2 separate regions of the Homo sapiens genome follow, and region 1 is linked to region 2. The links come from fine-mapping of genetic effects on gene expression. A gene starts in region 2. The other region holds a variant in brackets. All regions are shown on one strand. Distances are from middle to middle. Region 1 has its middle 12 kb from the start of WTAP. Region 2 holds the start of PNLDC1 (PARN like ribonuclease domain containing exonuclease 1).

What was found.
Region 1: its variant is fine-mapped to the expression of PNLDC1 in esophagus mucosa (GTEx, PIP above 0.99). The same link has a PIP of 0.9 or more in thyroid and tibial artery.

The regions. Positions count from the first base shown.
Region 1 is chr6:159,713,987-159,716,899 of GRCh38, reverse strand. It overlaps a transcript of SOD2 not described here and the pseudogene HNRNPH1P1. Among named protein-coding and RNA genes, the nearest start is that of WTAP, 12 kb to the left of the region's middle. The variant G/TG (reference allele first, on the strand shown) is at 1,424.
Region 2 is chr6:159,799,039-159,801,951 of GRCh38, reverse strand. It overlaps PNLDC1 (PARN like ribonuclease domain containing exonuclease 1), which reads right to left and starts at 1,676. Exons shown (of 19, transcript NM_001271862.2): 1 at 1,569-1,676; 2 at 1,123-1,180; 3 at 766-839. The coding sequence starts at 1,644.

The sequences.
Region 1 (2,913 bases), 85 kb after region 2:
AAATTGTGTTTGAGTCATAGTATCTTCAGGCCAGGAGATGAATTATGGCTGGTGTAAGCCAGTGTTTCTCAACAAGTGTGCTACTGGAATTTTGGACAAGACAATTTGTGTGTGTGTGAAAAGTATCTTGTGCATTTTAGGACATTTAGCATCCCCACACCAACCCACTAGATGCCAATAGCACCTCTCTGTATATGTGACAGCTGAAAGTGTCCCTTTCTATATTTTCAATACTGCCCCCTCCCGTCATGCCCTTGATGAGAACTGCTGGTCTAAGGCAAGCATGGCTGTCATGGTCTTTACCACATAGTGATGGTGCTCAGTCTTCTTGCAGGCAGAGTTGGCCAGTTGAGCAGTTCTGGCTGGGATCAGAGGAAATCTCTCGGGGCTTCTGAGAAAAATTTTCCTTCCGGGGAGAGGCACATGAGGTGAAATGTTTTCCCCCTCCCTTCCTTGTTGTCTCTTACTAGGCTGTGAGAGGCTGTGCTGCTTGCACCTATAGGAAACATCTTGTGACGATGAGGCAACAAGTTGGAAAATGAAAGCAGGCTGCTGGGAATTCAGAGTCAAGAATGGAAAGTCCCTGGGTCCGGGATGACCTTGTTAATCTTCCAGACTCACCAAGGGACTGCCAGTTCTTGTACTTTTTATTAGGTAAAACAGATATGTCCTTATATTTAAAACCACTGTTCATCAGGATTCCTGTTACCCATAGCCAAACACATTCTAACTTAGAGAGGAAGGGCATTTACATGATCAGCAAGTGAAATAAAATGGAGAGGTGCCAGCAAAACTAGGTTTTTCTGTGACACTTTGCTTTATTGTTGTTGTTTTTACATTATGATGTCCATAGCCCTTGTTTCACAATAAAGCAAAAATTTAAAAGTCATTATTCATTTCCAGAAAACCAAACTTTTATAAGACAAAAAGCTAACTACAATAAAAATATAAGGGTCTTGAAGGATTTTATTTTCAGAACTTTTTTTTTTTTTTTTTCCTTGAGACAGGGTCTAGCTCTGTTGCCCAGGCTGGAGACCAGTGGTGTCATCTCAGTTCACTGCAGCCTGCACCTCCTGGGCTCAAGCGATACTCCCACCTCAGCCCCCCAGGTAGCTGGGACTACAGGTGTGAACTACCATACCCAGCTAATTTTTGCATTTTTTATGGAGACGGAGTCTCACCATGTTGGCCAGGCTGGTCTCAAACTCCTGGGCTCAAGTGATTCTCCCACCTTGACCTCCCAAAGTGTTAAGATTACAGGCGTGAGCCACCATGCCTGGCCTATATTCAGAACTTTTCAAAATACTATTCTGTTTGCCTCTGTTGCTTGCTAATAGTGTTTAACCTTATGGATGCAACGGTAAGATCCTGTTTGGTCAAACCTTCAGTCAAATCTCTTCAGTTTTTAAAAGGACGGTTTTTT[G/TG]TTCCCCACAAATTAAAGACCCACTAGGACAGGAGACAGTCCATTCAAAAACTATGTGACTGTTGACAAACTGTAAATCCATTCTTCTGCCAGAGGAGAGCACTGGGCCTTAAGCAATGGTTCTACTGTTGACCACACTGACTTCCTGTTAGACATGTTTTTGTTGCTCTTCCCTGTTTTTCTTAACCTGTAAATAGTTTTCTCTATCCCACTCATTTGGGTCCCAGTGCCACTGGCCAATCCAGGTCTTCAGCTTTTCTTGTCGACTAACAGTGGCCCCCCAATTGGTCCTCTGCCACCCATCTTTGCTTCCCATCCAAACTCTCTCCTACACAACAAGCCCTTTCTAAACACAAGTCTGGGAAATTTCCACTCCTGGGAAAATGGACTAGACATACTTTTCCATGTTCCTCTCACCAAGTATGGCTAAAAATCCTGAATATTATATGTAAAACAAGCAGAAGAAGACTGAAAGGCAAACTGGCTATGGACTTCAGGACCCAAGGACTGACACAGGAATGACTCCCTGTGTTTCATTTTTGCCTCATATATCCCAGAAGCCAGCAATCTGTACACATCAACAAGCACAGACAAAAACAGCCACCAGCAAAAGCCTCTTATGTATAACTAAAGGTCCAAGAAAGGAGGCAGTCTACCAAGACAGAAAACCTTTAGACAGTAACTGCTCTACTCCAGCCAGACAACAGAGAAGAATCTGCAGCCTACCCCCATCCACTCAAGCAAAGGCTTCTGATGAAAATGCCAGTGGGCTGTGATGTGATTAGTTAGGCAGGACACCAGGGTAGGCTTATCATAATCTGGGCACACAGAATTGCAGTCATTTGGCACACCTTTTCAACAAAGTGAAAAACAGGAATTGCTTTATAGTACCGTGGGAAAGAGTACCGCCTGGCGATGAAACGAGCAAAACATCTAGAGGCTGTGCTGCTGAGCCTGCTGGTGGAAGTCAAATCAGTGTTGGTTCTTAAAAGTTCACTACCCAGGCCCTGCCTGGGGAGTGAAGTAGGGAGTGTACAGTCAGGAGAAGGGACTGATGGAATGTGCGGGTCTGTTCCCGATGGAAGCTAGGCTTATCTTCCCTTGGAGGGAAGAATCCGTATGTAATATGTCAGCCAGTGTGGGACTCAGGGAAGTCCAAGGTCATTGGGTTTCTGGAGGGAAAAAAGAATAGAGGAAAAGGTATAGGCAGAGATGATGTTTCTTTGGTCCTCACAACCCGACGTCTAGGGAGGTGAGGGCCTGTATTAGTCTTATGTGACAGATGGGACAGCAGAGGCACAGAGAAGTCAGATGGCAGCAGAGATTAGAGGTAAAGCCGGTGTGCTCATGTGATCACTTGCTTATGTGAGCAGAAGTAGTTCTGCTTGTCATCTTGCTATAGCCCATTTGAAGGCAGAAGGAGGATAATTGCCCACTACACCAAAATTGCATTCCGCCAAACTTGCCACCAAGAGCTCAACAGTCGCCAC
Region 2 (2,913 bases):
CGCGCTACTGCACTCCAGCCTGGGCAACAGAGCGAGACTCCATCTCAGAAAATAAACTAATAACTAAATCAACAAATAGATCTGTATGAACCGATACAGAAAGATCTCCAAATCCCATCAAGGAAAAAAAAAAAGTTTCTGAAACTGAGATGACCTTAAAAAAAATTATTTTTGTGTGTAAATTTTCTTAAGAAAAAAAAATCACAGGCCAGGTGTGGTTGCTCACGCTTATAATTCCATCACTTTGAGAGGCAGAGGCAGAAAGATTGCTCGAGCCCAGGAAGTCAAGAACAGCCTGGCCAACATGACGAAAACCCATCTGAACAAAAAATTTAAAAATTAGCTAGGTGTGGTGGTGAGCCTGTAGTCCCAGTTTACTCAGGAGGCTGACGTGCTAGTATCACTTGAGCCCAGGAAGTCTAGGCTGCAGTGAGCTAAGACTATGCTACTGCACTCCAGTCTTGGTGACAGAGCAAGACCCTGTCTCAAAAAATAAAATAAAAATCGCACACACACAGTTTTACTTGAAAGAGTAACAGTGAGTGTTCCTTAATACTGACTTATTTAAGCACGGAAACAATGCTGCTAAATTTGGTTTGCTCCGAAGTGTTGATTTCCATATGTATACAATGGCCCAACACAAAACAAGCATACAAAACGATACTCAATATCCTTGAAAAATCTCAGAGCTGTTTTTACAGTAGGAAATCCAAGGACAATAAAAATACCTTCTTGAAAAACTCTAACAGCTGATATTAAACTCACCAATCTGACAGACTGTAAATTGCTGAACACTCTGACGGGTCTTTAGATACCACTCCGATGGCAAATCAAAAAGACTGTGAACAAACAGGCATCTCATTCCACGAGCAATGACATCCCATCCCGGCACTATGGCCTCCGCGGCAGGACCACCACTCGCAACCGGGGAGGATTTTTTCCTTGTTACAACAACTAGGGAGCACTACCATCATTTAGTGGACAGAAAAAAGCAAGGTCCTCCAACACGTAGGAGCAAGCCACACAAAACGTCCTGCCCCCCAAATGCCAACAGGCTGCTGGCCAGAAACAGTGCTGGTCTGGCCAGGCTCTTATACAGAGGGGACACAGCTTTAGTTTTACCTGATCTGCTGGGGCCCAGACAGGTTAGAACGAAGGCCCGTGAACTCTATGTCCAGACCTGCCAGGAAGGCAAAAAATAGCAGTCCTCGGGTGCAGAACATCGCCAGCACTCCTCACACTGTAGATCTGCAGGCGGCCAAGGCACCCGCGCTCACCTCTGCGCTCAAGAAGCCAAGTGAGGTCAGGAAGGGAAAATGGAGGAACCAAGGCAAGGAGCAGCCAGGCACCTGGGCGCACGGGGCTCTGGCCAACAAGGGACGTGGGGCTCGGAGTGTACTTGCTGCTCAAAGTCCCACCGCCCCGGGGCTGGAGAAGGAAGCCCCCCTGTCCTTCCCGAGGCCCTCTCTGAGGCCCTGTGGCCTGGCAACCGTCCCGCCACCCCCTCCTCAAGCTCGCCCGGGGCAAGGGGCTCTGTCCGGCACAGCCGCGAATCCCAGGCTCTTCACCCACGAAGTCGGCCTCCTGGACGAGCTCCTGCAGCAGAGGGAGGCTCTCCTCGAACTCGTCGGCGCCCACGTCCATGGCCGTGCAGCTCCGCGGAGTCGCCCAGCGCTATCACGTGCTGCCCACGTGCTGCCCACGCGCTTCCGTCGCGCCGCCGGGTCTTAAAGGGCGCACACATGGAAACCAGGCAGCTGCCTCCGCCCCACGTGCCCAGCTTCCCCGTGTGCTGCTGGCGTCGCCCACACCTGCCTGCGGGTGTTTTAATTGTACGATTTGCTACAGAGGTTTGATTGCAATTGCAATCAAAGCCTGTTTACCTGGCTCCTCAGCAATTTCTTTGCAGCCCTTAACGTGAGAATGTCATTTACATGGACTTAGAATGTTAAGAGGCGTGGCAGGAGACGAAGACAGAGTCCAGAAAGGGTGAAATCAGAAAAGCGGAGCAGGAACAACACCGGACGCAACTGCAATAAGCAGATCCTTTGCTGCGGCTCACGGTCTTCTAAATCACCTCTTCCCAACTTCTCCATCACTGCCAGTATGTCTGTCCCCATTCCCTCTCCCACGCCCCTGGACATCTTTTTCCTCATTCTGCTGTCCACCTTACCACTGTCTTCACACCTGCAATCAAACTTTGCAAAGCCTCAAGAACTGCCCATTAAATTGAAGGAATCCTTGGTCCCCAGGGATTATCTCGTGCACTCACTCCTTGCGGAAATCCCTACCTACATCATCACATACATGTGAGCTTAATTTTTACTTTTGTTACTGTTTCCAGTGCAACTAGTCCATGGTCTTCCTTACAGTGTCCTCCCTTGAATTCTAGGCTTCTACTTGAACAGCGTTTTGGAACTATGGTCCTCAAAGTGAGGTGCTCAAATCAATCTTTAAGGTTAGCGGAGAAAACATTACCGTTATACTTTATTTTTTCCTTTTGAGACAGTCTCACTCTGTCACCCAGGCTGGAGTGCAGTGGTGCCATCTCGGCTCTCTGCAATCTCCACCTCCTGAGTTCAAGCGATTCTCCCGCCTCAGCCTCTGAACAGCTGGGATTACAGGCATGCACCACCACGCCCAACTCATTTTTGTTTTTAGTAGAGATAGGGTTAAACCGTATTGGCCAGGCTGGTCTCGAATTCCTGGCCTCAAGTGATCCACCTGCTTCAGCCTCCTAAAGTGGTGGGATTAGAGGTGTGAGGCACTGCATCCGATCTTCAATTATACTTTTAAATGCCTCTCCGGGACATTAATTAAGCAAAAGGGGACTATTAAGCCATTTGATTCTGAAGACCTCTCAGAACAAATCATACTTCATACAGATGTGTTCCATTTAAAATAACACATTGA